Homo sapiens: one gene and its partner. The protein of the gene in region 1 purifies or fractionates together with the protein of each later gene. This does not show direct contact. Each region holds a gene or a part of one and is shown on either strand. Other genes may lie near its edges.

Evidence for each region.
Region 2: the proteins of NOX1 (region 1) and PPP2R3B purify together in Homo sapiens (affinity purification with mass spectrometry; 2 studies listed by BioGRID and IntAct, with this or other methods). This does not show direct contact.

The regions. Positions count from the first base shown.
Region 1 is NC_000023.11:100,868,051-100,883,717, reverse strand, and holds the start of NOX1 (NADPH oxidase 1), read left to right. Parts: upstream 1-9,358; 5' UTR 9,359-9,578; coding exon 9,579-9,623; intron 9,624-12,903; coding exon 12,904-12,999; intron 13,000-15,667. UniProt on the Homo sapiens protein: NADPH oxidase that catalyzes the generation of superoxide from molecular oxygen utilizing NADPH as an electron donor.
Region 2 is NC_000023.11:383,908-399,641, reverse strand, and holds the start of PPP2R3B (serine/threonine-protein phosphatase 2A regulatory subunit B'' subunit beta), read left to right. Parts: upstream 1-12,734; 5' UTR 12,735-12,950; coding exon 12,951-13,274; intron 13,275-14,536; exon of another isoform or gene 14,537-14,600; intron 14,601-15,734. UniProt on the Homo sapiens protein: The B regulatory subunit might modulate substrate selectivity and catalytic activity, and might also direct the localization of the catalytic enzyme to a particular subcellular compartment.

The DNA of each region.
Region 1 (15,667 bases):
ACACACTGCTTTACTTGCAACCGAAATAGTTCCAATGCATTTATCCACAGCACATTATGCTGATGGTAGGGACTGTACATTGTCAACCTTTAGCTCTGAAAACTTGTGACTTTATCTTCTTCTTCTTTTTTTTTTTTCTCGAGACGGAGTCTCGCTTTGTCACCCAGGCTGGAGTGCAGTGGCGTGATCTCAGCTCACTGCAACCTCCGCCTCCAGGGCTCAAGCAATTCTCCTGCCTCAGTCTCCCAGGTAGTTAGCTGGGATTACAGGTGCCCGCCACCATGCCTGGCTAATTTTTTGTGTTTTTAGTAGAGATGGGGTTTCACCACGTTGGCCAGGCTGGTCTCAAACTCCTGAGCTCAAGTGACTCGCCCGCCTCGGCCTCCCAAAATGCTGGGATTACAGGTGTGAGCCACTGCACCCGGCTTATCTTCTTTCCCAGGCAGAGTAGTCAGTTCAGAGCCAGTAAATATGGTTGCAGGAAAGTCTTTTCTTTACCATCTGTATTACTTTCCTATTGCTGCTATAACAAATTACTATAAACTTGGTGGCTTAAAGCAACACACACTTATTATCTTATGGTTCTGGTTGTCATAATTCTGCATTGGGTCTCACTGGGTTAAAATCAAGGTGCTGACAGGGCTGCATTCCTTTCTGGAGGCTCTGGGGGAGAAGTTCCAGCCCACATTCCTTGGCTCCTGGCTTCCTTTCTCTATCTTCAAAGTCAGTAAGAGTGGGTCATGTTCTCATATCTCATCACTCTGACTTCTGTGTCCCTCTTCCATTTTTAAGGATCCTTGTGATTACATTAGGCCACCCATAGAATCCATAATAATCTCCCTGCTTTGGGGTCAGCTGATTAGCAACCTTAATTCCACCTTCATTCCCCTTTGCCATGCAAGGTAACGTATTCACAGGCTTAGGATGTGGACATCTTTAGGGGGCTATTATTCTGCCTACCACACCATCACATGACAAATGTTTATTGAACATCTACTGTGCATAGAGAGCTTTGTGCTCTGCCTTAAGGAGCAATCTGGATAAGATAGGACTTGCTCAGAAAAGGGTAAATAACAATGGGAGGTTTCACAGGCTATGAGAGAGGTAAGAAGATGAGGAACTCATGCTATGTCATGCTATAAAAATTGGAAGACAGTGTGGTATGATGACTGAGGTGGTCAGAGAAGACTTCCTGGAAGAGGCAGAGCTTAATCGGTCTTCAAGAAAAGGCAAGAGTTGAATATTGTTTCTGAGCTGAATAAGTCTCACATATACACTTTTGAGGGCAGATTTCCAAAGTAGCAGATGTAACATGAAAGTACTCATTGCTATTCTAGTGATGTCTCCATGATACTTACTGGCCTAAAAATCACTGTTATACATACCAGCTCATTTGATGCTCACCACAGCCCTGTGATGGAAGTAGGGAGAACAGGGAACTACATAAACCTTTCCATCATTGAGTCCCCAGGCCCCTTTCCAGGCCTAGGGCCACCCCCAGTGTTCTTTCTTCCTTATGGCCATGGGGATACCACCTGTTTTCTTCTTTGGTAATTACTCCCCAAGCCTAGCTGCAGAATGAGACACAAACTCTGCACCTTCCCAGTTTCTTGCTACTATTGAAGCCAAGCACACAGGCTCATTTAAAATTTGCTAAACTCTGGAGAAAACAGGGTAAAACCGACGGACATAAGGTAGTGACAAAAGTTTCATAATCTTACAAAGTTTGTATAATAATGGTCTCTGATCTATAGTTTCTGCTCCCCTTTTCAATAGCAAAAGAAAGTACCATTGAGTTTAGGTCCTCTGCTTATATTTTCTTAGGGCTCATCATCATCATCATTATTATAGCAAGCAACTATGGAGTGCTTTTTATATGTCAGGCAGTGTTCTCATTGCTTTCCATACTTTAACTCATTTAATTCTTATAACAACCCATTTTATGGATAATGAGGCAGGCTTCAAACCTAGGTAGACTGGCTCTGGAATCTATATCTAACCAGTACACCATACTGCTCTACCATCTCTTCCGTACCACCACTTTGCCTTCTGCCTATCAATATAGGCTACAATTTGAACACTTTCTCCATGAGGGATCAGTACGCTAGGTTACAGATGAAGAAACTGAGGCTGAGCAAAGTTAGACTTTTCCAAGGGAGCATTAATAGTGAGTGGGGAGCTGGAGGTCAAATCCAGCTCCATCATACCATATTGCCTTTACAAGGTGCTACTTTGGTGAGGTCTGGTTCTGCTCCAACATAGTAAAAAGAATTGATTTCAAATAATTCCACATGTATCAGTCCCTCTTATCATTATGGGATGTTTCATTTTTGGACGCTGTAATCAAGACCAAATTAATACCTTTAAAGGCTCTAAGATTTAAAAGAAACAAATGGGCCAGGCGCGGTGGCTTACGCCTGTAATCCCAGCACTTTGGGAGGCCGAGGCGGGTGGATCACGAGGTCAGGAGATCGACACCACAGTGAAACCCCGTCTCCACTAAAAATGCAAAAAAAATTAGCCGGGCGCGGTGGCGGGCGCCTGTAGTCCCAGCTACTGGGGAGGCTGAGGCAGCAGAATGGCGTGAACCCGGGAAGCGGAGCTTGCAGTGAGCCGAGATCGCGCCACTGCACTCCAGCCTGGGCAACAGAGCAAGACTCCGTCTTAAAAAAAATAAAATTAAAATAAGTAAATAAATAAATAAATAAACGAATGTCCTCCCAACACCATCCTCTATGGATTCAAATTAAACGTAATTATAAACAATAAAATAAGTAAAACAAACTATCATTTTCCCCATGACTACTTAAATTTTTGTTTTTGAAAACCAACCATCAAATTCTTTTATAAATTCTTAAAATAATTCTCAAAACAATTTTTTCTGATGTCCTAAGCACATGTTTAAACTGTTAAGTAATTCAACACTCTCTGTTATATATTAATTCCTGGAAGAGGTGTACAAGAGTTGTAACTGTAAAGGCAAATTTGGGACAAATGAGGACAGACACAAGTGATCAGGGAGAAGACACAACATGCAGGTCAGGTAAGGGCTTTGTGTTTACAGTTTGCAAGAATCCACCTACCATGGGTGGGATCAACCGTCTACAGGAAATCTTTCCAAAAGACTGCAGTCTATGGTAAAACTGTGAATAAGTTACTGATGACATTTAAGTACTCCCTAGAGATCTCCAGGAAGCAACCTCAAATTTAGTCAATGCCGCATAATCCATAAACCTGGGAAATGCAAACATTAAGACAGGTGAAGCAATACAGGGTGGAGGGGACTATTATAATGTCTAGAGCCAACAGAAGGAAAGCAATTCTGGGAGAATTTACAAAAAAGGGAGGTTGATGGTGAGAAGTTTTGTTTATTTATTTTAACTTATTTTTATTTTACTTTAAGTTCTGGGATACATGTGCTGAACGTGCAGGTTTGTTACATAGGTATACATGTGCCATGGTGGTTTGCTGCACCTATCAACCCATAATCTAGTTTTTAAGCCCTGCATGCATTAGGTATTTGTCCTCATGCTCTCCCTCCCCTTGCCTGCCACCCCCCAACAGGCCCCAGTGTGTGATGTTCCCCTCCCTGTGCCCATGTGTTCTCATTGTTCAACTCCCACTTATGAGTGAGAACATGCAGTGTTTGGTTTTCTGTTCCTGTGTTAGTTTGCTGAGGATGATGGTTTCCAGCTTCATCCATGTCCCTGCAAAGGACATGAACTCATTCTTTTTTATGACTGCATACTATTCCATGGTATATATGTGCCACATTTTCTTTATCCAGTCTATTATTAATGGGCATTTGGGTTGGTTCCAAGTCTTTGCTATTGTAAATAGTGCTGCAGTAAACACACACGTGCATGTGTCTTTATAGTAGAATGATTTCTAATCCTTTGGGTATATACCCAGTAATGGGATTGCTGGGTCAAATGGTATTTCTGGTTCTAGATCCTTGAGGAATCACCGCACTGTCTTTCACAATGGTTGAACTAATTTACACTCCCACCAACAGTGTAAAAGCATTCCTATTTCTCCACATCCTCGCCAGCATCTGTTGTTTCCAGACTTTTTAATGATCACCATTGTAACTGGCGTGAGATGGCATCTCATTGTGGTTTTGATTTGCATTTCTCTAATGACCAGTGATGATGAGCTTTTTTTCGTATGTTTGTTGGCCACATAAATGTCTTGATGGTGAGAAGTTTTTAGTGTGTCCGGCATTGCCCAAGAGAGGGAGGTTTCAGATTTGGGGCATGGATATTTTAGTTGAATTTGCTGGTGTAATCTTACCTTGAAAAGGGCCAAGTGAGTTTGCTGCTGCAGCTTAATAGTAATATTCCGTTAAGATCATCTGACTATCTTAGCTCAGATTCTGTGATCACCAGCTTATCAAAAGACTTCCTAGTACTCTGATATTGGGAATGGGGGTCCTACCTCACAGACATAAGGGTCCAATCAGCATGGCATATATAATTCTTTAGATAATACATAAATTGTCATCCAGATTATAGATCATTCTTTTATGAATCACAGGATCTCAATGTTGGAGTATATTTAAGGGACATTTAGTTAACCATCTACCTGGTGCTGATATTCCCCTTATAAAAAGCTGACAAGGGGTTGTCCATTTTTCCTTGAGAGTCTCAAGTAATAGGAAACTCATTACCTCTTTACTTCTCTGAATACCCGTGTTGGAAAATTCTGCTTTATATTGAAAAAAAATTGTGTTACTTTATTTATTTTTATTTTTATTTTTTGACACAGAATCTTATTCTTTCGCCCAGTCTGGAGTGCAGTGGCGTGACCTTGGCTCACCACAACCCTCGCCTCCTGGATTCAAGCGATTCAAGTGCCTCAGCCTCCCGAGTAGCTGGGACTACAGGCATGCACCACCATGCCAGGCTAATTTTTGTATTTTTGGTAGAGATGGGGGTTTGCCATGTTGGCCAGCCAGGCTTGTCTCAAACTCCTGACCCCAGGTGATCTGCCCGCCTCAGCCTCCCAAAGTGCTGGGATTATAGGCGTGAGCCACCATGCCCAACCTAAAGTGTGTTACTTTAGAGCCTCTATTCCTTGGTTGACTCCTTGGGTCACATACAAAACAATCTAAATCTTCTTAAAAAAAATGTAGATAAACTCATGTCCCCGATAAACCTCTTTCCAGGCCAAATTCCCTACACTCTTTAAATCCTCCTAATATAGGATGCTTTCAACTCATTACATCATCTTGGTCACCCTTCCATGGACAGGCTTTAGTTTCTCTTTTAATGTGTGGTCTTGGGCACGGGCAAGTGTTTTTGTAAAATTTACAAATGTAAAATATTTTCATTGCTAGTGATTGACTGTCTCTTACCACTCCAACTTCCCTCTGTCACACTTCCCCTCAGGTCAAGTGATGCTGGAGTGGCCATGAGCATTTCTGGAATACAGATAAGAGGTTGTTGTGTTGGTGGTATATTTAGTTTGGATTTAGGAGAATATATATTATGTGGTTCACTGACACTTCTATATCTAGTTAACTGATTGATAGCTGCCTTAGTGTAGAAATGGCTTCCAGGAAAACTCCTACCACCCACTGTGCCAATTTCACCTGGCATTATGATACTAAATTGCAGGTGTGTTCAGCAGCTAATGAAAATGTTGTTTTTATGGGTTTTGTGATGTTGAAGAGATTTTTCAGCTTTTTACAATAAATATAAAATGTGCTGTGCATTGCGCTATACTCCTTATAATGGGAACATTTCATGGCATATAAATTATACCTCAATAAATCTGTTAATTGTGCTGTGCTTTCTTTTCTGTTTTAAATAAATATTTGCTTTTGTGCCTAAAGTAAAGTAAAATAAAAATATGTAGCAGTATATCTACAAAACCTATACAAAACATTCTACTTAAGGGTGAAATGGAAGAATCCCCTTTGAGATTGGGAATTAGGCAAGGGGATCACTACTTCTACCTTTGTGCAGCATTGTACTAGAAGTTCTAGTGAGTGCAGTAAGCGAAGAAAAAGAAATAAAAGTTATAAGAATTAGAAAAAAGAAGGCTGGGCACGGTGGCTCACGCCTGTAATCCCAGCATTTTGGGAGGCCGAGGCAGGCGTATCACCTGAGGTCAGGTGTTTCAGACCTACCTGGCCAACATGGTAAAACCCAGTCTCTACTAAAAATAGAAAAATTAGCCGAGCATGGTGGTGGGCGCCTGTAGTCCCAGCTACTCGGGAGGCTGAGGCAGGAGAATCGCTTGAACCCGGGAGGCAGACGTTGCAGTAAGCCATTGCACTCCAGCCTGGGCAACAAGAGGGAAACTCCGTCTCAAAAAAAAAAAAAAGAATTAGAAAAAAGAAATAAAACTGTGTTTAGAGCGAAAAATGTGACTGTGTTTATAGACAATGTAAGACAAAATACAGAAATATTATTACAATTAATAAGTGAGTTTAGCAATGTTGCTGGGCATAAAAATCAATATGTAAAAACAAATTGTATCTTTAACAGCCATCATTAAAAATTAAAATTAAAATATATAATTTACAACCTCATGAAAACATATAAAGTTCTTAGAAGTGGATATAACAGGCTGGGCACGGTGGCTCATGCCTGTAATCCCAGCACTTTGGGAGGCCGAGGCAGGCGGATCACGAGGTGAGGAGGTCGAGACCATCCTGGCTAGCACAGTGAAACCCCGTCTCTACTAAAAAATAGAAAAAATTAGCCAGGCGTGGTGGCGGGCGCCTGTGGTCCCAGCTACTCGGGAGGCTGAGGCAGGAGAATGGCGTGAACCCGGGAGGTGGAGCTTGCAGTGAGCCGAGATTGCACCACTGCACTCCAGCCTGGGCGACAGAGCGAGACTCCGTCTCAAAGAAAAAAAAAAAAGAAGAAGAAGTGAATATAACAAAGGAGACGCAAGAATTTGATTATAAAATTTACATGAAAATGAAAAAGGCCAAGAATAAAAACAAAACACAGAACCCCCCCTCCCCCCAAAACAAAGAAACAAACAAACAAAAAGTCAAGAATAGCCAAAGCACTCTTGAAGAACAAGGTGGGGAAACTTGTCTTATCAGATGTCAAGACTTAGTAATTAAGGCAGTGGCATGGAAGAACTGAATGGAGAGCTCCGGAAGAAACTCGTGTATATAGACATTTCATATATAATAGAACTGACATTTTAGATCAGCGAAGAAAGTATATTTTTGAAAGTACTTTTCAAAAATGGCTGAGCGCAGTGGCTCATGCCTGTAATCCCAGCACTTTGAGAGGCCCACGTGGGTGGATCACATGAGGCCAGGAGGTCAAGACCAGACTGGCCAGCACAGCAAAACCCTGTCTCTACTAAAAATACAAAAATTAGCCAGGCATGATGGCGCTTGCCTGTAATCCCAGCTACTCGGGTGGCTAAGGCATGAGAATCACTTGAACCCAGGAGGTGAAGGTTGCAGTGAAGGGAGATCACACCACTGTACTCCAACCTGGGTGACAGAGTGAGACCCTGTCTCAAAAAAATAAAAATAAAAATAAAAAGTACTTTTCAAAAATGATGCTGGGGCAATTCGTTTTCCATATTTAAAAGTAGTAAATTGGATACCATACATGAAAATCAGCTCCAGGTGGATTCAAAACATAAATGTAAAATGCAAAAATATAAAATTTCTAGAAGAAAATATAAAAGAGTATCTTGATATCTGGGTAGTGATGGATTTCTAAAACAAGACATAAAATGCATAAATCATAAAAGAAATGACTGGTAATCAGAGTGCATTAAAATTAAGAACTTCCATTTATCAGAAAACACTATTAAGAGACTGAAAAGACAAGCCATAAACATAAGCAATAAAAGATTAGTATAAGATTATAAACAGAACCCTAAGAATCTAAAAGCAAAAGAAAAACCAATAGAAAGATAGACCAAAAAGTAGAATAGGCTCAGAATAGGCTCTTTTAAAAAGAGAAAACTCAAATGGCCAGCAGTTGAATTAAAAGATGCTCAAACTCATTAGTAATCAGGGAAATGCAAATTAAAATCATAATACGATAGTTTTCCACACTTACTTGAATTATAAAAACAAAAAAGTCTGGAAAATACCAAGGGTTGGTAAGCATGTAGAGGAAGTAGAACTCTCATTCATAACTCTCTGTAGTATACATTTAGGTGGTCACTTCGGAACGGGTTTGGAATTACACAGCAAAGTAGAATATGTGCAAATCTCAGGACCCTGGAATTTTACTCCTGGGTATATACCTTAGAGAAACTGTAGCATATGTGTGACATTTGATCAACATTGTTCCATCATCATATCCATCAGTAGTAGGATGAATGAATACATTAATGTATATTCATTCATGCAATGGCATATTAGATAGCAGTGTAAGTGAACCGCAATTACATGTACATGTATGAATCTCAAAAACCCAATGTTGAAAGAAGCAAACCACAGAAGCATACATACACACTGCCAGGTTTCATTTACAAAAAGTTCAAAAACAGGAAAAACTAAACAATATATTGCTTAGGGATGCAATTATAGTTAGTAAAAATATAAAGAAAAATAACAGAATGATTACCCCAAATTTCAGGATAGTGATTACATCCGGTGGGGTAGAGGAGGGGAAGAAGATAGATGTGATCAGGGAGGGAAATACAAAGAGCTTTAAGATACTGGAGAAAAATAGTCTATTTTCTTTAATCTGAGTAGTGAACACATAGATACTTATTCCTTAAAATTATTCTTTAAGTTACATATGTATGTTTTATATACTCTTCTGTGTATATTTCACCATTTTAGAAAAGGGAAAAAAAATCAGTGCCCAGAGCTGAACACACAACTCTAGTAAATCTATCATACTAGAAGACAATCATCTCCATTCTTTTGAGTGCTCTGCCTCTGTTTATTTTGAACCAAAGTGCACTTTTATACTTGTTAAATTTTCTCTTGCTCTATTTGGCCCTTCTTTTCACTTGTCCTTCCAGCCAGTCAAGTTCTCCCCAAAGCCATCATCATATATGTCAACCACAGATCATCCTCCAGGGGAACTGGTATGCTAAAGTTTCTGAGCTAGCCAGGCTGAAATCCAAATGGCAGCCGGCAGATGTGGCAACAGTTTGAAAAGTGCACTTTGAAACAGCTTCCTTACCACACACGCTTCCCTCCCTACTTCTCCTGAAGTAATCTGTTTACAGACCCAGACTAATAATCTTTTTTATGAGAAACTTTAGCAAATCTTTTATCTAGGAAGGCAATGCTTCACATTAGGTCATGTTGATAAGATGATGAGAGAGAATATTTTCATCCAAGAATGTTGCTATTTCCTGAAGCAGTAAAATCCCCACAGGTAAAACCCTTGTGGTTCTCATAGATAGGGCTGGTCTATCTAAGCTGATAGCACAGTTCTGTCCAGAGAAGGAAGGCAGAATAAACTTATTCATTCCCAGGAACTCTTGGGGTAGGTGTGTGTTTTTCACATCTTAAAGGCTCACAGACCCTGCGCTGGACAAATGTTCCATTCCTGAAGGACCTCTCCAGAATCCGGATTGCTGAATCTTCCCTGTTGCCTAGAAGGGCTCCAAACCACCTCTTGACAATGGGAAACTGGGTGGTTAACCACTGGTTTTCAGTTTTGTTTCTGGTAAGTGATGTTTGACTTCCTATTAATTAGGAAGGATTAAGGAGAAATCATGTTTTTTAATATTTGTAAAGCAATTTGAAAGAGAAAGATGATTCCATGCCGATTATTGGGCTCATCAAGACCAGTTAGTTAAAAAATACAACTGTGGGTCAGATGAGAGGACAGAGGCAAATAACATGCAATTGTTCATGTTGTCAAATCACAAGTATTTGGAATTTCAATCTGTTTTCATTTTCTGTCATCTCCCTTTCTCTTCCATCTCACTTCTAACTACTACCATGAGTGCTGATTTCTCTCTATCTTTCCTATACTGGTCCCATCAAGATTTCAAAAAGTCACTGAATGTTTGAGATGAAAGTGATCTTAGAGATCATCTGGCCCAGTACTGACCACTAGAAATATAGCAAACCACATAATGTAATTCCTAAATTTTCTAATACCTACACCGAAAAGGTAAAAATAAACAGGTGAAGTTAATATTTAACAATATAATTCATTTAACCCAACATATCAACAAATCCTTTCAGTATGTATTCAATATTGAAAATATTAAGAAGCTAATTTACATATTTTTATTTTTACTGAGTCTTTCAAATCTGATGTGTATATATACCCACAGCACATCTCAGTGAGGACTAGCCACATTTCAAGTGCTCAGCAGCCCCATGTGGGTAGTGGCTGTGGCATTGCATAGTGCAGATGTAAACCAACTTATTGATTGTACAAAGGAAAATAAGACCTAGATGTCACACAATGAATTGACTGAATTGGCATCACTCGAACCCAGCTCCCCAATGACGTTCAGGCCAGAACCCCTTTATCACCCTTTGTATGCACAATCCCTTTCTCCTAACACTCTAACACCTCTCTCCACTCTCATTCTTCCATTTCTGAGCCACAGTTGAGCCTGGGGCTCCCTGTGTCCTTTCTCACTTTCCTAGATCTTCATTCATTACTCTTTCTCTTTTCTCCTGTTTTGCTTTTGGGTCCCACAGGCAAAACAGAAGAGAGAAGGTGTGATGCTTCTTTTTATTCCTGTCTACCCCCCCGCCCCCCGACCAGGTGCTCCAGGGAAAAATATGTGGAGTTTCCCTGGAGGGTTGTTTGTTTTACATTTAACAAAAGTGCTTATTTTGTCAGGTTATCCCATGACATATTTTAAATGCTCAATGCCTTATATTGAGTTCCTTTTGCACTATAATGGAAAGAACACTAGTTTAGGAGAAAGGGAACCTGGCAAGTACTTTGAATTCTGCTACTAACTGGGTGATCTCGATCAAATTATTTATCCTCTCTAGACTTCAGGTCCTGTGGGTGTGTAGGTGGGGGGAATTGGGCAGGGGAGGGGAGCAGGGGATTAATAAAGTGACTAGATTAGATACAAATATAAGGGTGTTTCTAGCTCTAAAATCCACATTTACCTGCATTTTTTCCCCCTCTCTTATTTTTTGCTGGGAGAGTTTACCAGCTATGATGGTGACTCACATTTAACTCTCTAGCTTTGAATTTTCATCCCCCACCAAACCAGCTGGCAAGCTTAGACTTCTCATTATCTCTGACATATACTCCTATGCACTGATTTTTAAATAAAAAATAAATTACTTAAAAATAGTTTTATTCCTCCTTCCTCCCAGGTCTTGTAGTTTACCTTCTTTGACGTTCATAGTGGAGGAAATGACAGCTAAGATGGGGAATGGAATGCCTTACTCCTAGATATCACTGTATTTCATCATTTGCCTTGCCTACAATTGATGATGGGCTGACACAGTTATTTGCCCCTGTGTCTCTTTGCGATCCAGAAATATTTCTGCTCCCTCTAAATAAACTTCTCTCCTCTGTCTTCCAAATTCTTGAGGTGTCTGTGACTGTTGACTTTCTTTTCTTTCAAAGACGTTTCTCTGGAAGACACTCAGCTCTGGAAAAGGGTAACTGAGCAAAGGAGGCAGGAAGAAATTGATTGGTAAAGCAGGTTCGGTGGTGACACAACTCTGTAGCTAGCACTTATTGATCTCTTACTAAGCCCCAAGCATTGCATTAATCACTTTACACGCATTATCTGACGTAAGCCTCATAGCATTACTATAAAGTAGGTCCTGTTATTATCCTCATTTTGCAGGTGAAGAAATTGAGGTTTAGAAAATTTAAATCATATGTCTGTCTGAGATTATAGAGCTATTAATTGGTGATGCTACAACTTGACTCCAATATCACACTTTAAATCACTATATTATAGTACTAAAGGTGTGTGAGTGGTCTAGATCTAGGGAGTCTGAATAGGCCATGTCCTAGGCTAAAGGCCCTTTGCCTGTTGTGCTGAGATGGTTCTGACTCATACTGTGGGGCGAGGGATATATACTAGCGCCCTGGAGACCTGTCGAATTACAGACTAGCACCTCCACACTTGGGCTAGAGACCAGTTGGTTGGTCCTCAAGGCAATGGGCAGTGAGTTCCAAATTTCACCTTTAGCCAGTGCAGAGACAGAACTTGGAACAGGCAAAAGCAGTCTTAAGAGCTCAAAAAAGTCCAAAGGAAAAATAGATTAATTTGAAAAAAGACTCACAATCTGAAAACAGAAAAATGTGTGTCAGGGTGTAATTAAAAAGGCAGGCCCATCTGGAATGGTTTAGTTCTTTTCAGTTAGGTATTGTTATAGGTGCTAAATTTGTTCTTTGTTTCTTCAGATATCCATTTATTCACTTATTGCCATCTTTTAGGTGCAACAGTTTGAATGCTCTAGTCCAAGAAATGGCAAATGTTTCTGTAAAAATCTAGATAGTACATATTTTAGGCTTTGCAAGCCATATGGTCTCTGTCCCAACTACTCTACTCCGTCATTGTATCACAAAAACAGCCATAAACAATACAAAAATGAGTAGCAGTGGCTAAGTTCCAATACCACTTTATTTATGGTCACTGAAATTTGAATTTCATATAACTTTCACATGCCACAAAATATTCTTCTTTCGATTTTCTCAACCATTAGCAAATTTGAAAATATAAAATATAAAAAACAATTCTGAGCTTGCAGGCTGTGGCAAAACAGGTAATGGGCCATGGGCCTCAGTTTGCTGACCCTGCTCTAGTCTAATGCATGTCTCAAAGTGCTAACTCACTCTGAAAGCCAGTTAGATACTAGCAGGATTGCACTCATTTAAAATGAAAACAGGTAAACACAAAATAGCCAAAACGGCGACACTATTGCTATCCCTATCCCTTATTTACTCCTTCCCATACTCAAATTTCACTTTATTCTTTGCATGTTTTTTTTTCTTTCTCTAGGTTGTTTGGTTAGGGCTGAATGTTTTCCTGTTTGTGGATGCCTTCCTGAAATATGAGAAGGCCGACAAATACTACTACACAAGAAAAATCCTTGGGGTGAGTATCACGGTTGTCACGGATAGAATCTCTATTGTTTTCCTTATCTCTGATTCCAGCTTCTTTGTGACCCAATGCCCTGATATTCTCTAGGGCTAGGGTTGCCAGAAAAAGTACAGAATGCCCAACTGACTTTGAGTTTCAGATAAATGACAAATTATTTTTTTATGTAAGTATGCTCCAAATACTGTATGAAACACAGGTATACTAAAATATTTATTTTAAAAAGTCTGAAGTTAAAATTTAGCTTAGCATCCTGTATTTTTATTAAATAAATCTGATAACCCCATCTAGGGCACACTACCCAGACCCAATAAAGGAAACATGCAATAAAGAAAACTATTAGGCAGTTGTTTTCAAACTGGTTTCCAGAAACTCAGGTGTTCCTACAGGGTATGAGGGGAAGGCTAACTGGGCAGTGCTCCTGCTCCTGCTCCTGCCCCTATTTCTTTTTTTTTTTTTTTTACAAGGAGGAACTGGTACCATTCTTCTGAAACTATTTCAATCAATAGAAAAAGAGGGAATCCTCCCTAACTCATTTTATGAGGCCAGCATCATTCTGATACCAAAGCCTGGCAGAGACACAACCAAAAAAGAGAATTTTAGACCAATATCCTTGATGAACATTGATGCAAAAATCCTCAATAAAATACTGGCAAACCGAATCCAGCAGCACATCAAAAAGCTTATCCACCATGATCAAGTGGGCTTCATCCCTGGGATGCAAGGCTGGTTCAATATACACAAATCAATAAATGTAATCCAGCATATAAACAGAGCCAAAGACAAAAACCACATGATTATCTCAATAGATGCAGAAAAGGCCTTTGACAAAATTCAACAACCTTTCATGCTAAAAACTCTCAATAAATTAGGTATTGATGGGACATATTTCAAAATAATAAGAGCTATCTATGACAAACCCACAGCCAATATCATACTGAATGGGCAAAAACTGGAAGCATTCCCTTTGAAAACTGGCACAAGACAGGGATGCCCTCTCTCACCGCTCCTATTCAACATAGTGTTGGAAGTTCTGGCCAGGGCAATTAGGCAGGAGAAGGAAATAAAGGGTATTCAATTAGGAAAAGAGGAAGTCAAATTGTCCCTGTTTGCAGATGACATGATTGTATATCTAGAAAACCCCATCGTCTCAGCCCAAAATCTCCTTAAGCTAATAAGCAACTTCAGCAAAGTCTCAGGATACAAAATCAATGTACAGAAATCACAAGCATTCTTATACACCAACAACAGACAAACAGAGAGCCAAATCATGAGTGAACTCCCATTCACAATTGCTTCAAAGAGAATAAAATACCTAGGAATCCAACTTACAAGGGATGTGAAGGACCTCTTCAAGGAGAACTACAAACCGCTGCTCAAGGAAATAAAAGAGGATACAAACAAATGGAAGAACATTCCATACTCATGGATAGGAAGAATCAATATCGTGAAAATGGCCATACTGCCCAAGGTAATTTACAGATTCAATGCCATCCCCATCAAGCTACCAATGCCTTTCTTCACAGAATTGGAAAAAACTACTTCAAAGTTCATATGGAACCAAAAAAGAGCCCGCATCGCCAAGTCAATCCTAAGCCAAAAGAACAAAGCTGGAGGCATCACACTACCTCACTTCAAACTATACTACAAGGCTACAGTAACCAAAACAGCATGGTACTGGTACCAAAACAGAGATATATATCAATGGAACAGAACAGAGCCCTCAGAAATAATGCCGCATATCTACAACTATCTGATCTTTGACAAACCTGAGAAAAACAAGCAATGGGGAAAGGATTCCCTATTTAATAAATGGTGCTGGGAAAACTGGCTAGCCATATGTAGAAAGCTGCAACTGGATCCCTTCCTTACACCTTATACAAAAATCAATTCAAGATGGATTAATGCTCCTGCCCCTATTTCAACCAAAGCAGACTATATCTATCTATGAACACCTGCTTACAATTTTAAGAAAGAGTTTGGTTTTTTTTTAAAAAAAAGGAAAGTAAAAAAGAAAAAACAAACACAACTTGAAAACACTGCTGTCATGGAAACATACCTCTCTATCAAATAGGAGGGATACTTAGGGGAGTCTCATGGGTGCTACAGAATTCAAGGCCTGCAGAAAGGAGGGCTCAGGTCAAGGTTACAGAACCTGAGAAGCTTGGGGAAGTGGCAGATCAAAAACAGAAGAGGGAGGGAGGGAGTGGGTAGGGCACAGGGGTGTGGAGGTGACCAGGAGGAAGCACGGAGTTGAGGATGGTTCTCTCACAGGCTGATGAACCCGGATGCTGCCTGGTTAGAAGAGCATATTTGACTGCTACCTCTAGTCTATTATGCAATAACAGATAGAGGATTTTAAATCACTTTCATCTTGACAGTGTCATTTTTTCAGTAGCTTTTGGTATCTTCCCAATGTACATGTTTAAAGACAGCTTGTCCTTTTAAAAAATGCTTTTTTCTCTCTCCATAATCAAAGAATCCATGTTGAGATCACAACTAATTTGAACGTTCTGTTCATGGTTTATTTCACCCTGCTGTTTTCCATTTTAAATGTTCATCCTTGATCCTTCTTTAGAAACTATAACTCCAAAGGAGGTATTAATTTGCTTTAAAAATAGCTTTTTACTAAGAGAATGATGCAATAAATGTGACTAGTTATTAA
Region 2 (15,734 bases), about 100 Mb from region 1:
ACTTTGGGTGGCTGAGGCGAGCGGATCACGAGGTCAGGAGTTCGAGACCAGCCTGGCCAACATGGAGAAACCCCATCTCCACTAAAAATACAAAATTAGCCAGGCACGGTGGCTCACGCCTGTTATCTCAGCACTTTGGGTGGCTGAGGCGAGCGGATCACGAGGTCAGGAGTTCGAGACCAGCCTGGCCAACATGGAGAAACCCCATCTCCACTAAAAATACAAAATTAGCCGGGCGTGGTGGCTCACGCCTGTCATCCCAGCTACTTGGGAGACTGAGGCAGGAGAATTGCTTGAACCCGGGAGGTGGAGGTTGCAGTGAGCTGAGATCGTGCCACTGCACTCCAGCCTGGGCAACAAGAGTGTAACTCTGTCTCAAAAAAATTTAAAAAAAAAATGCAAAAAAAGAAATCAAACTATACATAATATTGCATACAGACAGTCCCCAGCTTCCAATGGTGCAATTCAGGATTTTTTAACTTTATGCTGGAGAGAAAGCAGTATGCATTCAACAGAAAGTGTACTTGAAGGCCGGACGTGATGGCTCACGCCTGTAATCCCAGCACTTTGGGAGGCCAAGGTGGGCCGATCACTTGAGGTCAGGAGTTTGAGACCAGCCTGGCCAACACGGTGAAACCCCGTCTCTACTAAAAATACAAAAAATTAGCCGGGTGTGGTGGCGGGCGCCTGTAGTCCCAGCTACTCGGGAGGCTGAGGCAGGAGAATGGTGTGAACCCGGGAGGCGGAGCTTGCAGTGAGCCGAGATCGCACCACTGCACTCCAGCCTGGGCGACAGAGCGAGACTCCGTCTCAAAAAATAAATAAATAAATAAAATAAAATAACAAAACAAAATAAAGTAGGTCAGAAAGGCAACTGGAGTCCATAGCCCACGTTCTGTAACCCAGTTCTGACTCTGCTGTGCGCCCCGTGGTTAGAAAATGGCAAGTCAACAGAAACGTTCTCAAACCAGAGACCAAGGCACATCCCGAGGCATCCGTCTCACTAACAACTGCGGGGACGTGGGATCTGGGGGACATCCTGTCTCTGCCACTCAGAGCGCTGCTGCGTGCAAACAGGTACAAATGCCAGCAACTCTTCGAGAGCTTCCCACGTCATCCACGGACGGGCACGACCTCTTCCTCACCACCAACACCCACCCTATCCCATCTACCATAGTGTGCTTGCCACAGCGAAGATGATTCCATAAAACACCACTTGTGCTCTGAAACCACAGGGACCCACGTCTGCCTGGACCCGGAAAAACGGTGCAGAATATAGCAGGTTTCTGGCCGGGCGCGTTGGCTTACGCCTGTCATCCCGGCATTTTGGGAGGCCGAGGCGGGTGGATCGCTTGAGGTCAGGAGGTCGAGACCAGCCTGGCCAACATTATAGGTGTGAGCCACCGCCCCCAGCCTGGGACCTTATTTGGAAATAGCGTAGAGATGCTGAAACCCCATCTCTACAAGGAATACAAAATATTAGCCGGGCGTGGTGGCGGGTGCCTGTAGTCCCAGCTACTCGGGAGGCTGAGGCAGGAGAATCGCTTGAACCCGGGAGGCGGAGGTTGCTGTGAGCAGAGATAACACCACTGCACTCCAGCCTGGGTGACAGAGCAAGACTCCATTTCAAAAAAAAAAAAAAAAAAAACAAAAGAAGAAAAGAAAAAAAAAAGAGAGAGTTTTTGTCACGGAAACGCCTGACAGTGCCTTGAAGCTGGGGATTAAGAGTGAATTGCATAGTTGGGATTCTGCAGCCAGAAAGTCATCGCGGAGTTAACGCAGTGCCTGGCCGAGGCTTCCTGAAAGCTGCTGGTCCCTGACCTCTGGGGCACGAACAAGACATCTGAAAATAACTGGGGTTCCGTGCTGCCAAAACGGCACCGGACGTCAGCTGTTCTCCCCGGAGGCATTCCTTCCACACACGGGTTCCTTTGGAGGACAAAGGGAGCAGATGCTGCCGGCCGAGCCTACGGCCTCTTCAGTCCTGGAGGGTGTGGGGGGCAGGAGGAGAGGGCTGCGGTGTCTGGGGCAGCCTCGTCCGGCCACTTCTCAGCAAGACGTCCCTCTGTGCTGTTGAACAACCATGTCTGGACTTTTTTTTTTTTTTTGAGACGGAGTCTCGCTCTGTCGCCCAGGCTGGAGTGCAGTGGCACGATCTCGGCTCACTGCACGCTCCGTCTCCCGGGTTCACGCCATTCTCCTGCCTCGTCCTCCCGAGTAGCTGGGACTACAGGCGCCCGCCACCATGCCCGGCTATTTTTTTTTTTTTGTATTTTTAGTAGAGACGGGGTTTCACCATGTTGGCCAGGATGGTCTCAAACTCCTGACCTCGTGATCCGCCCGCCTCGGCCTCACAAAGTGTGGGATGACAGGCATGAGCCACTGCGCCCGGCCTATTTATTTTATTTTATGTGAGACAGGGTCTTGCTCTGTTGCCCAGGCTGGAATGCAATGGTGTGATCTCGGCTCACTGCAGCCTTGACCTCCTGGGCTCAAGTGATCCTCCCACCTCAGCCTCCCGAGTAGCTAGGACTACAGGTGCACACCACCATGCTGGGCTAATTTTTTTTGGGGGGGGGGTAGAGATGGCATCTCACTACGTTGCCCAGACTAGTTTCAAACTCCTGGGATCAAGTAATCCGCCTGCCTCAGCCTCCCGAGTAGCTGGGACTACAGCATGGGCCACCATGCCCAGCTAATTTTGCTTTTTGGTAGAGATGGGGTCTTGCTATGTTGCCCAAGCTCATCTCAAATTCCTAGGCTCCAGTGATCCTCTCACCTCAGCCTCCCAAAGTACTGGGATTACAGGCAGGAGCCATCCGGCCCGGCTTTTTTTTTTTTTTTTTTTTTTTCAGATGGCATCTCGCTCTGTTGCCCAGGCTGGAGTGCAGTGGTGCAATCTCGGCTCATTGCAACCTCCGCCTCCTGGGTTCAAGTGGTTCTCCTGCCTCAGCCTCCTGAGTAGCTGGGATTACAGGTGCCCACCACCCCACCCAGCTAATTTTGTATTTTTAGTAGAGACGGGGTTTCACCATGTTGGTCAGGCTGGTCACGAACTCCTGACCTTGTGATCCGCCTGCCTCAGCCTCCCAAAGCCCAGCCCTGATTTTTGAATACTCTCTGTACTTCCCAAGTTTTCTCCAATCAGCAACTACTCCTTTTACAAAGAGGAAAAAAACAGTTTTCTGTACTACAGTGCTGTAAATCACTACCCCTGGCTATCAGAAATACGTCCTTCTGGCCGGGCGCAGTGGCTCACGCCTGTAAATCCCAGCACTTTAGGAGGCCGAGGTGGGCGGCTCACGAGGTCAGGAGATCGAGACCATCCTGGCTAACACGGTGAAACCCCGTCTCTACTAAAAATACAAAAAAATTAGCCGGGCGTGGTGGCGGGCGCCTGTAGTCCCAGCTACTCAGGCGGCTGAGGCAGGAGAATGGCATGAACCCGGGAGGTGGAGCTTGCAGTGAGCCGAGATCGCGCCACTGCACTCCAGCCTGGGTGACAGAGCGAGACTCTGTCTCAAAAAAAGAAAAAAAAAAAGAAATACATCCTTCTGTCATTCAGAAAAATGTGCATTTCGGCCGGGCACGGTAACTCACGCCTGTAATCCCAGCACTGTGGGAGACTGAGGCAGGCGGATCACGAGGTCAGGAGATCGAGACCATCCTGGCTAACATGGTGAAACCCTGTCTCTATTAAAAATACAAAAAATTAGCCGGGCGTGGTGGCGGGTGCCTGTAGTCCCAGCTACTAGGGAGGCTGAGGCAGGAGAATGGCGTGAACCCGGGAGGCGGAGCTTGCAGTGAGCTGAGATCACGACACTGCATTCCAGCCTGGGCGACAGAGTGACAGTCTGTCTCAAAAAAAAAAAGAAAGAAAGAAAGAAAGAAATACGTCCTTCTGTCATTAAGAAAAATGTGCATTTCACCAACTACACTCTGAGTCAAATGTAGGTCTTACGCAGAAAAAAAAAAACAAAGCTTTTACCGAAATGGGTACCCAGGCTCCATTCTCAATTTGCTTAAAATTTATGCTGAGCGAAATAAAAGAAGGCGTCACATCTGACATGCTAAGACTTTTTGCCTCATTTCAGATTAGGAGGAAAATCCACCCCATAGCAAAAGTCCGATATCTATCGTTCTAGTTAAAGAATCACCTAGAGGCCAGCGCGGTGGCTCACGCCTGCAACATCCCAGCACTTTGGGAGACTGAGACGGGTGGATCACCTGAGGTCAGGAGTTCGAGACCAGCCCGGCCAACATGGTGAAACCCTGTCTCTACTAAAACTACAAAAATTAGCTGGGCATGCTGGTGGGTGACTGTAATCCCAGCTACTCGGGAGGCTGAGGCAGGAGAGTCACTTGAACCTGGGAGGCGGAGCTTGCAGTGAGCCGAGATTCTGCCACTATAGCACAGGCGAGATAGCGAGACTCCATCTCAAAAAAATAAATAAATAAAATAAAATAAAAGTGAACTGTTTCACAGTAGCTGGATTTCGTAACGGCCCAAAAGCAGAAACCACTCAAGTGTCCACCAGTGGATGGGTGGATTAGCACAATGTGGTCCATCCACATGGTGGAATAGTATGCAGCCATGAAAAGGAACGAGGCTGTGACACAGGCTGCAATGTGGATGAGCCTTGAGGATGTCACACTCCGTGAGAGAAGCCAGACACAAAAGGCCACATAGAGTAAGATTCCATTTCTAGGAAAGGTCCAGAACAGGCAAATCCATGGAGGCAGAAAGTGGATGGGTGGTTGCCAGGGGATGGGGAGGGGGACGAATGACTGTTAATGGGGACAGGGTTTACTTTTGGGGTGAAGAAAATGCTCCAGACCTTTTGTTGTTGTTGGTTTGTTTGTTTATTTTTGAGACCGGGTCTCGCTCTGTGGCCCAGCCTGGAGCGCAGTGGCGTGATCTCGGCTCACTGCAACCTCCGCCTCCCAGGCTCAAGTGATTCTCCTGCCTCAGCCTCCCAAGTATCTGGGATTACAGGCACCAGCCACCAAACCCAGCTAACTTCTGTATTTTTAGTAGAGATGGGGTTTCGTCATGTTGGCCAGGCTGGTTTTGAACTCCTGACCTCAGGTGATCCGCCCGCCTCGGCCTCCCAAAGTGCTGGGATGACAGGCGTGAACCACCATGCCCAGCGCAAGTGTTCCGGAACTAGACAGAGGTGGTGGTACGCCATTGTGGATGTTTTAAATGCCCCTGTTCACTTTAAAACGGTTCCTTTTATGTTATGTGGAATGTATCTCAATTACAAAATTAAAAACAGAGGCCTGGCACGGTCACTCATGGTGGTCATCTCCGCACTTTGGGAGGCCGAGACCAGTAGATTGCTTGAGCTCAGGAGTTTGAGACCAGCCTGGACAACATGTCAAAACCCCGTCTCTACAAAAAAAATTAGCCAGGTGTGGTGGCAGGTGCCTGTGGTCCCAGCTAATTGGGAGGCTGAGGTGGGAGGATCGCTTGAGCCTGGGAGGCGGAGGTTGCAGTGAGCTGAGATCGCACCACTGCACTCCAACCTGGTGACAGAGTGAGATCCTAGCTCAAAAAAAAAATTGGCCGGGCGCGGTGGCTCACGCCTGTCATCCCAGCACTTCGTGAGGCTGAGGCGGGCGGATCACAAGGCTAGGAGATCGAGACCATCCTGACTAACACGGTGAAATCCCACCTCTACTAAAAATACAAAAAATTAGCCGGGCGTGGTGGTGGGCACCTGTGGTCCCAGCTACTCGGGAGGCTGAGGCAGGAGAATGGCGTGAACCCGGGAGGTGGAGCTTGCAGTGAGCCGAGATTGTGCCACTGCAGTCCGGCCTGGGCAAAAGAGCAAGACTGTCTCAAAAAAAAAAAAAAAATTAAAAATATAAATCTTTCAAAACCCTAAACAACTGTCTACAGTGTGATGTTCTGGGTCGTGGATAAGAGGAAAGTACTTATTAAAAGGATTCAAGGCTGCGTGCGGTAGCTCACGCCTGTAATCCCAGCACTTTGGGAGGTCGAGGCAGGAGGATTGCTTGAGGCCAAGAGTTTGAGACCAGCCTGGGCAACATAGTCAGACCCCATCTCTAGAAAAAAATAAAAAAATTAGGCGGGCATGGCGGTGCATGCCTGCAGTCTCAGCTACTCGGGAGGCTGAGGGTGGAGGATCACTTGAGCCTAGGAGGTCAAGACAGCAGCTGTGATCGTACAACCGCACTCCAGCCTGGGTAACGGAGTGAGACCCTGTCTCGGAAGGAAGAGAGAAAGAGAGAGGAAGGAAGAGAGAAAGAGAGAGGAAGAAAGAGAGAAAGAGAGAGGAAGAAAGAGAGAGAAAAAGAAATCTCAGCTCCAAGTATTACCAAGAAAAATAAGAGATGACACATAGGAAAACCTGTTTCTAATGAGCTCAAGCACGGGCCAAGTTCAATCAGAGATATGCATGACATTTATTATTATCATGAACAACACCAAAATAGATGCAGTTAGGGGTGATACAAAATGCTGGCCAGGCGCGGTGACTCACATCTGTAATCCCAGCACTTTTCGGAGGCCGAGACGGGCAGATCTCCTGAGGTCGGGAGTTCGAGACCAGCCTGGCCAACGCGGCAAAACCCAGTCTCTACTAAAAATATAAAAGGTAGCCGGGCGTGGTGGCAGGTGCCTGTAATCCCAGCTACTTGGGAGGCTGAGGCAGGAGAATCGCTTGAACCCGGGAGGCGGCTCCAACCTGGGCGACAAGAGCAAAAACTACGTCTCAAAAAAAAAAAAATAGAGAGAAAAGAAAATGCCATCTGCGTGCTCTTTGCAAACATTTCCCCATCTGCGTGCTCTTTGCAAACATTTCCTCCCGAAAGTCTCCCGGAATGATAAAAGCAACCACACAGCCTGGCCACCTAGAATCTGGGTCCGCTTGTTCCAGGCTCAGAATCTTTTTCCTCTCAGCCAGTCTCATCTTCCGGGCTGTCAACAGCGTGTGCAGGGCCGCAGGATTTATAGGTAATGACATGCTTCTAATTCTCCATTACCTCCAAAGATTTCATCTTCCCCTTTTCTAAATCCTTCTTAGGAGATACTTGTCAGGTTCATCTGGCCCAGCAGCTTCTGACAAGGGGACCCCGCTCATCCCCGTCATCTCTGTGACTTCATGTAAATAGCGGCACGTGGCGGCCGCCTTTGGCCCTCGGCCCCGAATCCATTGCGGAGTCTCACTTCCATTAATTCTTAATTTGTGACCACGCTTCCTTTTCTGTTCTGTGTTTAAATGGAGATGTGATTAGTAAGGTAATAGGAGAAAGCCGGGGTCCTCACGATGCAACGTGCATTTCTGCGCCTTATAGAAAATTGGATAGGCGTCATTATTTCTTCCAGTAGCAGAGTGCATTCTGACATCTGATTGCTTGAACTGTGATATTTCCATACGCCATCCATCACCCCGGCCACGGCGGCACGCTGAATATTCAGATTAAATTGGAACTTTTTCCCTATGAATAAGGGATTTCATTCTATCCTATAAGATACACTGTCTCCGGGGAGAGGAAATTGAGTTGAAGGTTGCTGAAAATCGTATTATCCAAATACAGAGTTCTTTTCCTTATCATCAAAACCTGAAACACAGCCGTGGGGAACCGAGAGGTCAGGAGAGAATTCAATTAGAGAGGAAAATGGAAAAGGGAGCATTTTTCCACTTACGTTTTATTTTGCCAAGCAGGTGGCAGCGGGCGCCGCTCGGGACAAAAGGGGCGATGTGTGAAGGGTTTTTGGTTTCTGGAAGATGGATGAGGACACAGCCTCAAGGAGTTATGAAGAGGCAGGAAAACCTCTACAGCAAATGTTCCATCCTCTCCTTTGCCGGTTTTGGACGAGGTATCTGTGAGAGTTCCTGGCCTCTTACTGCCACAGTTACGGTGGTTTCTTTTTTTGGGAGGGAGTCTCGCTCTGTCACCCAGGCTGGAGTACAGCAGCGCGATCTCGGCTCACTGCAACCTCCGCCTCCACCGGGTTCAAGCGATTCTCCTGCCTCAGCCTCCCCAGTAGCTGGGATGACAGGTGCACGCCACCACATCTGGCTAATTTTTGGATTTTTAGTACAGATGGGGCTTCACCATATTGGCCAGGCTGGTCTCGAACTCCTGACCTTGTGATCCGCCCACCTCGGCCTCCCAAAGTGCTGGGATTATAGGAGTGAGCCACCACTCCCGGCCCACGGTTAGAGTCTAAACTGTGCACGCTGCCTGGAGTCCCCACCTCTCCTCACCTGAAATATGCACTCGGAAATGTGTTTCCAAAACCTGCAGAATGCAGACCCACACTACTTTCCTATTTATTTATTCATTTTGAGACAGAGTCTCGCTCTGTCGCCAGGCTGGAGTACAGGGGCATGATCTCTGTTCACTGCAAGCTCCGCCTCCCGGGTTCAAGTGATTCTCCTGCCTCAGCCTCCCGAGTTGCTAGGGTTACAGGTGCCCGCCACCACGCCCAGCTAATATTTGTATTTTTAGTAGAGACGGGGTTTCACCACGTTGGCCAGGCTGGTTTCGATCTCTTGACCTCGTGATCCACCCCTGTCGGCCTCCCAAAGTGCTGGGATGACACTGTGCTCGGCTGGGTTTTTTGTTTTTTTTTGTTTGTTTGTTTTGTTTGTTTGTTTTAAGTCATCGTGCGGAATGCAAGCGGCAGATATAAACTTGATCCCTCTTTGACCTCTCACTGCACGCACCTAGCTGGGAGCTTTGGGTCGGCGCAGGACCAGGGAGATCCTACTTGCCAGGTGCTTCCTCTGAGGCATCTCCAGGTCTGGAGCTTTAGTGTTCGATCAACCACCCAGGTCTGCGGGGCGAAGGCCGACTGAGATCCAGAGCATGTCATACAGTGGGTGAGTTTGCATTTCTGAGCAGCTGCAGGTGGGGCAGAGGCTGCAGAGGCTGTGGCCACACAGGAGACCCGGGCTCAGGTGGATGAAGGAAGGAGCTTCTCTCCCTCTACAACCGTTGTGGCTCCCTCCTTCCTCACCTCCCTGGGAAGCGCTGACCCAGCTCTTTGTTCCTGGACCTACATCCCACAGAGGAGCAGAGTCTTCCGGAATCTTCCTCGCTACTCTTCCCTCCCCATTCTCGCTTTTTATTTTATTTTTATTTTTATTTTTTCGAGAGGGAGTCTCGCTCTGCTGTCCAGGCTGGAGTGCAATGCTGTGATCTCGGCTCACTGCAACGTCTGTCTCCTGGGTTCAAGTGATTCTTCTGCCTCAGTCTCCCAAGTAGCTGGGATTACAGGCACCCGCCATCATGCCCAGCTAATTTTTCTATTTTTGTAAAGACGGGGTTTCACCATGTTGGCCAGGCTGGTCTCGAACTCCTGACCTCAGGTGATCTGCCTGCCTCAGCTTCCCAAAGTGCTGGGATGACAGGTGTGAGCCACCACGTCTGGCTAATTTTTGTATTTTTGTAGAGACGGGGTTTCAGCATGTTGGTCAGGCTGGTCTCGAACTCCTGACCTCAGGTGATCCTCCCACCTCAGCTTCCCAAAGTGCTGGGATAACAGGTGTGAGCCACGATATCTGGCTGCTTTTTAAAATTTAATGCTTTTAGGGACAGAGTCTTTCATTCCTGCCTCGGCTGGAGAGCGGTGGTGAGATCTCGGCTCACTGAAGCCTCAACCTCCCAGGCTCAAACGATCCTCCTACCTCAGCCTCCCGAGTAGCTGGGACCACAGGCACACGCCAGGATGCTCAGCTAATTTTTAAATATTCTCTAGAGATGGGGCTCGCCATGTTGCCAAGGCTGGTCTTGACCTCCTGGGCTTAAACAATCCTCCTGCCTCGGCCTCCCAAAGTGCTGGGATGACAGGTGTGAGCCACCATGCCTGGCTAATTTTTGTATTTTTGTAGAGACGGGGTTTCACCATGTTGGCCAGGCTGGTCTCGAACTCCTGACCTCAGGTGATCCACCACCTCGGCCTCCCAAAGTGCTGGGATGACAGGTGTGAGCCACCGTGCCTGGCTAATTTTTGTATTTTTGTAGAGACGGGGGTTTCACCATGTTGGCCAGGCTGGTCTTGAACCCCTGACCTCAGGTGATCCACCGTCTCGGCCTCCCAAAGTGCTGGGATGACAGGCATGAGCCACTGCAATCTCCCGGCCTGCCCTCACCTTTCTCTCCCCAGGACAATTCTGGTGGCCACCCACCACCCCTGCAAGACGGACAGACCCGAATGGGCAGGGCGTCCATCCGGCTGTGGAGCAGCTTGGATAATTGCAGCTGGCCACATCCCAGCAAACTCTGCAACACCTCAGGCCCTGCCAGCCTTGGGGGCCCGACAGCACCTCTTTGTTCTCCCAGAGCAAAGCCTGCACGGAGTGGGCCCCCGGGCCCCAGCGCAGACTGAAGGCGCATTCTGTTTCTGCCCTGAGTTGATTTCTGTCCTGTTGGCCCTGGGCCTCACTACACTGTGCCCCAGTAACCTGGCAGAGAAAGGCCTCTTGTGCAGGCATTCAAAGGAAACCCTTTCCCCTCAAAACTGCAGTGATGCTTCCAACAGTGACTCGCAGCTCATCGAAACACCCAGAATGAAAAGCACGTTTGTTCCTTGAAAAGACGTCTGTGTCCGATACATACTCAAACAGAGAACTGTATTAATATATTCACTTCCCTCCAGAAATCACAGCATCGCACACACACACAAACGGTTGCTTCCCAATTAGGAAAAATAACTTCACAGAATTCCTGCGTGATGGCGCTCTTCTGACCAAGTACACTCGGATTTTTATATCCAATCACGAAACACAAACTGAAATTCAAATCATTATGTACACAACACAAAACTATCGTTTATGAGTGATTTAAATCGGGTGCGGTGGCTCACGCCTGTAATCCCAACGCTTTGGGAGGCAGAGACAGAGGCAAAGGCAGGAAGATTGCTTGAGGCCAGGAGTGTGAGACCAGCAACACCTCGTCTCTATAAACAATAAAATTAAAAATGAGCCAGGCATGGTGGCGCATGCCTGTTGTCCCAGCTGCTTGGAAGGCTGAGGTGGGAGGATCGCTTGAGCCAGGAGATCAAGGCTGCACTCAGCTAAGATCGCAGCCTGGGTGACGGAGCAAAACCCTGTCTCATACGAACAAAAAGAGTTATTTAGGCCGGGCGTGGTAGCTCACGCCTGTAATCCCAGCACTTTGGGAGGCCGAGGCGGGTGGATCACTTGAGGTCAGGAGTTCGAGACCATCCTGGCTAATACGGTGAAACCCTGTCTCTACCAAAAATACAAAAATTAGCCAGGCGTGGTGGCGGGCGCCTGTAATCCCAGCTACTCGGGAGGCTGAGGCAGGAGGATCCCTTGAACCCGGGAGGCGGAGGTTACAGTGAGCTGAGATCTTGCCATCGCACTCCAGCCTGGGCGACAGAGCGAGACTCCAACTCAAAAAAAAAATAAAACTAAAAAAAGAGTTATTTTTTTTTTTTTTGAGACAAAGTCTGGCTCTGTCGCCCAGGCTGGAGTGCAATGGTGTGATCTCAGCTCACTGCAACCTCCACCTCCTGGGTTCAAGCAATTCTCCCGCCACAGCCTCCCGAGTAGCTGGGACTACAGGCACACGCTACTATGCCCGGCTAATTTTTCTATTTTTAGTAGAGATGGTGGGGGCGGTTTCACTATGCTGGCCAGGCTGGTCTCGAACTCCTGACTTCGTGATCTGCCCGCTTCAGCCTCCCAAAGTGCCGGGATTACAGACTTGAGCCACCGCGCCCGGCCAAGGGTTACTTATTGAGTCTGGCTCGATTTATGCAGCTCAGAAGTAGGAGAACCTGGCTCATAAAAGACCTTGAAATTACTCTCTAACAGGGTGCAACACCAGGTGAAACCCTATTTTGATAAAAAATGAATAAAAAGCGGGGCAAGATGTAAAGGAAACAGGTGCATGTGTGCCAGACAGATGATAATGCAGTGTTTTTATGGATACTGTTAAAAGCAGAAACAAAAACGACCATTGGGTAAAGTTATTTAACTAATGTCACCTCCCTGGACGTGGATGATTTTTGCAATTTTCAACGCACTTCACGCTCATCCCTGAACACCAACGTTTAAAGGGGTCCAACTCCTCCAACCTGTCTCTACTGTTTGATAAGCAAAGCTAAAGTAAACGGGGCCCTTTGGGTCCCAGGTAGCCCGCTGTTATTGAAAAGTTTGATCTTTTCCTCGCGCGCTCCCGTAGGACGCACGCTCGCTCCCGAGCTCGGCGGGCGCGCACCCCGCATGCTCGCTCGTTCCCGGTGCCTCCCACTGCGCAGGCGCACTCCCGTCCTCCAGCCCCACCCGCTCACACACCTCCCAGCCTCTGGCTTGCGCCCCGCGGGCAGCCATTGCGCACGCTCACCCGACCGGCCTCCCGAACTCCGCTCCTCCACCGCTATGCACGGCGCATGCTCCATGCGGAGGTTCCACCCTCTCCTCGCTCTGGCAGGCACGCATTGCGCATGCTCGCATTTCCGCAGCTCTAGGACTGCCACGCCGCCATGGGCCGCGCCTCTAAAAATCCTAAACGCAGAAAGAGCTCGGGCGGTACGGCCGCCACAGCCCCTCCCTCGTCCTCACCGCAGCCGCTCGGCCCCACCAAAGCCTCCTGCAAAAGCTCCGAGGGCCGCGGGGCGCGCGTGGCTAGCGGCGGCGTCGCCTCGTGATGACATCGTCGCGATGACGCGACGCAGTGACGTGAACGCGGGCGCCCTTGTTTGGGAGCGCGGCCGGCGCGCCCGTTTTGAAGCTGCCCTGAGCAGCGCGGGCCGGACCGCGCCCCCTCCTCGGTCCCCGCGCCCCGCGAGTCCGCGCAGTTCCCGAGGCGCGGGCCCTGTTCCCTGCGCCGCGCCCCCTCAGCGGGCCGTGCTCGCATCACCGAGGTCGGTCCGGGGCGGACCGAAGCCCCCGGGGCGGGGCGGGGCGCGGGCGTCCGGGGGCGCCGCGGGCCCAGCCCCCGCCATGCCGCCCGGCAAAGTGCTGCAGCCGGTCCTGAAGATGAAGGTGGACGAGCTGTTCCTGTACTGGCTCAGCGAGGCCAGCACGCAGCGGATGCTGCAGGACTGCCTGCGCCGGATCAAGGCGCCCGGGCGGGACCAGCCGACCCCGGGGGACGGGGAGCAGCCCGGGGCCTGGCCCACAGCCCCGCTCGCCGCCCCCCGGCCCAGCGGGCTCGAACCCCCGGGAACCCCCGGGCCGGGCCCTGCGCTGCCCCTGGGCGCCGCCTCCAGCCCCAGGAACGCGCCCCACGTTCGAGGCACCCGTAGATCCGCAGGGACGAGAGTAGTAAGTTACTCTTCCTTCTGCTAACAACTGCGCAGGTGGCTCTGGTCGCATAGTGGGCGTGTGGCTGCGCGATGGAGGCTGGTGGGCGAGCGTCAGACCCCAAAACGGTTTCATATTGAGTCTGTTCCCCGCCCCGACCCCCCCCACCACACACATACAGACAAGAAAGTCCCACGTACTGAACATTCCGTCATTGACAGTTGTTAACCTAAAAATCACACAATTTATAAAGGTAGAAAGGCTTCCTATTTTATTTTATTTTATTATTTTAATTTGTTTTAATTTTGAGACAGAGTTTTGCTCTGTTGCCCAGGCTGGAGTACGATGGCGCGATCTTGGCTCACTGCAACCTCTGCCTCCCAGGTTCAAGCGATTCTCCTGCCTCAGGCTCCCGAGGAGCTGGGACTTACAGGCACGTGCCACCACGCCTGGCTGATGTTGTATTTTTAGTAGAGACTGGGTTTCCCCCATGTGGGCCAGGCTGGTCTCGAACTCCTGACCTCAAGTGATCCTCCCGCCTTGGCCTCCCAAAGTGCTGGGATTTCAGACGTGAGTCACTGCGCCTGGTCCGTTTTTTATTTATTTTACAATTCTTTGGAGACAGGGTCTTGCTCTGTCTCCTAGGCTGGAGTGCAGTGGCGCAAACACAGTTGGACTTCCTGCCTCAGCCTCCCCAGTAGCTGGGATTACAGGCGTGCACCATCACGCCAGGCTAATTTTTGTTTATTTATTTATTTATTTATTTTTGCAGAGACGAGGTCTTGCTATGTTACCTAGAGTGCTCTGGAATTCCTGGGTCCAAGCAATCCTCCCGCTTCGGCCTCCCAAAATCCCACTGTATTTCTTAGAAGAAACGCCATTTATTTCATAGAAGGTGATTATACACCGCAGGTGAGAAGCGCAGCCTCTGGCTAATGTACCTGTAATCTCAGCTACCCGGGAGGCTGAGGCAGGAGAATCACTGGAACCCAGGAGGCAGAGGCTGCACTCCAGCCTGGGCACCAGAGCAAGACTCCATCTCAAAAAAAAAAAAAAAAAAAAAAAAAAGAAAACTAAAAACAAGCACTTGGAGGGAAGAAAAGATGAGACGGGAATTTATGCTGAGTGGGTTGGCCAAGTGTATATATTCAAGAAGTTATAGGAAGAGCTATGGATATTCACCAAGGGTGTCCTGACGCATGGGTATTGAACAAACATGCATGTTACCTACTCCCGAGTTCACCTTGGAGCGGAGACTTAACATTTAAATGCATTATGGTTAGGCCCCCTAGGTCAAAAGGTGAAGCAACTCTGCAGCCTCTGTCAACCGGCCAGAACCAGTCCGTGGTGAGTAGTTACCAGGATAAAGTGATTGCAATCAGTTTTTTTTTTTTTTTTTTTTTTTTGAGACAGATTCTCACTCTCACCCAGGCTGAGATGCAATGGTGCAATCTCAGCTCACTGCAACCTCCGCCTCCCGGGTTCAAGCGATTCTCCTCCCTCAGCCTCCCGAGTAGCTGTGATTACAGGCGCACACCACCACCCCCGGCTAATTTTTGTATTTTTAGTAGAGGCAGGCTTTCACCTTGTTGGCTAGACTGGTCTCAAACTCCTGACCTCAGGTGATCCACCCGCCTCAGCCTCTCAAAGTGCTGGGATGACAGGCGTGAGCCACCACACCTGGCCTGGAATCAGTCTTTTCCCAGTCAAAGCTGTAGTTACGGCTGGTGGAACAGAGGGGTCTGTTCATCAGGATCTGACAGGAAGCTGCAGGTGTTTTAATATTGTTTATATTGGTCAGGCATGGTGACTCACGCCTGTGATTCCAGCATTTGGGAGTTGGAGGCAGGCAGATCACTTGAGTTCAGGAGTTCGAGACCAGCCTGGGCAACATGGCGAAACCCCATCTCTGCTAAAAATACACAAATTAGCCAGGCGTGGTGGCGCACCTGAAGTCTCAGCTACTCAGGAGGCTGAGGCAGGAGAAATGCTTGAAGCTGGGAGTCGGAGATTACTGTGAGCTGAGATTGCACCACTGCTCACCAGCCTGAGCAACAGAGGAAGGCCCTGTCTCAAAAAAAAAAAAAAAGTATATATATATATATAGAGAGAGAGAGAGAGAGAGAGTCTTCTTGCGTGCGCGAGCTTGAGGCCAAGATAAGCAATAGAGAAAAAGAAAAACATCCTTTATTTACTTCTTGAATCTCAAAAACGAGTTTCTGCAGAGGTCTCTAGTGAATAACCTAAAAGGACATTTAGCTGCTGGAGAAAAAGAAATGCTTTGGCAGTTGGAACTGTAGTTTATTCTTTAAGTGTAGGCGGTGTGTGACTTAACCCTCACCTCAGGTGGCCCTTGGTCTTGTTTGCCACAGAGTCTGTTCTGTCAGTCTTACGATGTTGATTTTAACCTTTTTGCTGGTTGGTTGTGTTTAAACTGCCAAAGCAGGAGGGGTATAATAAGGTGTGTCCAAACTCCCATCC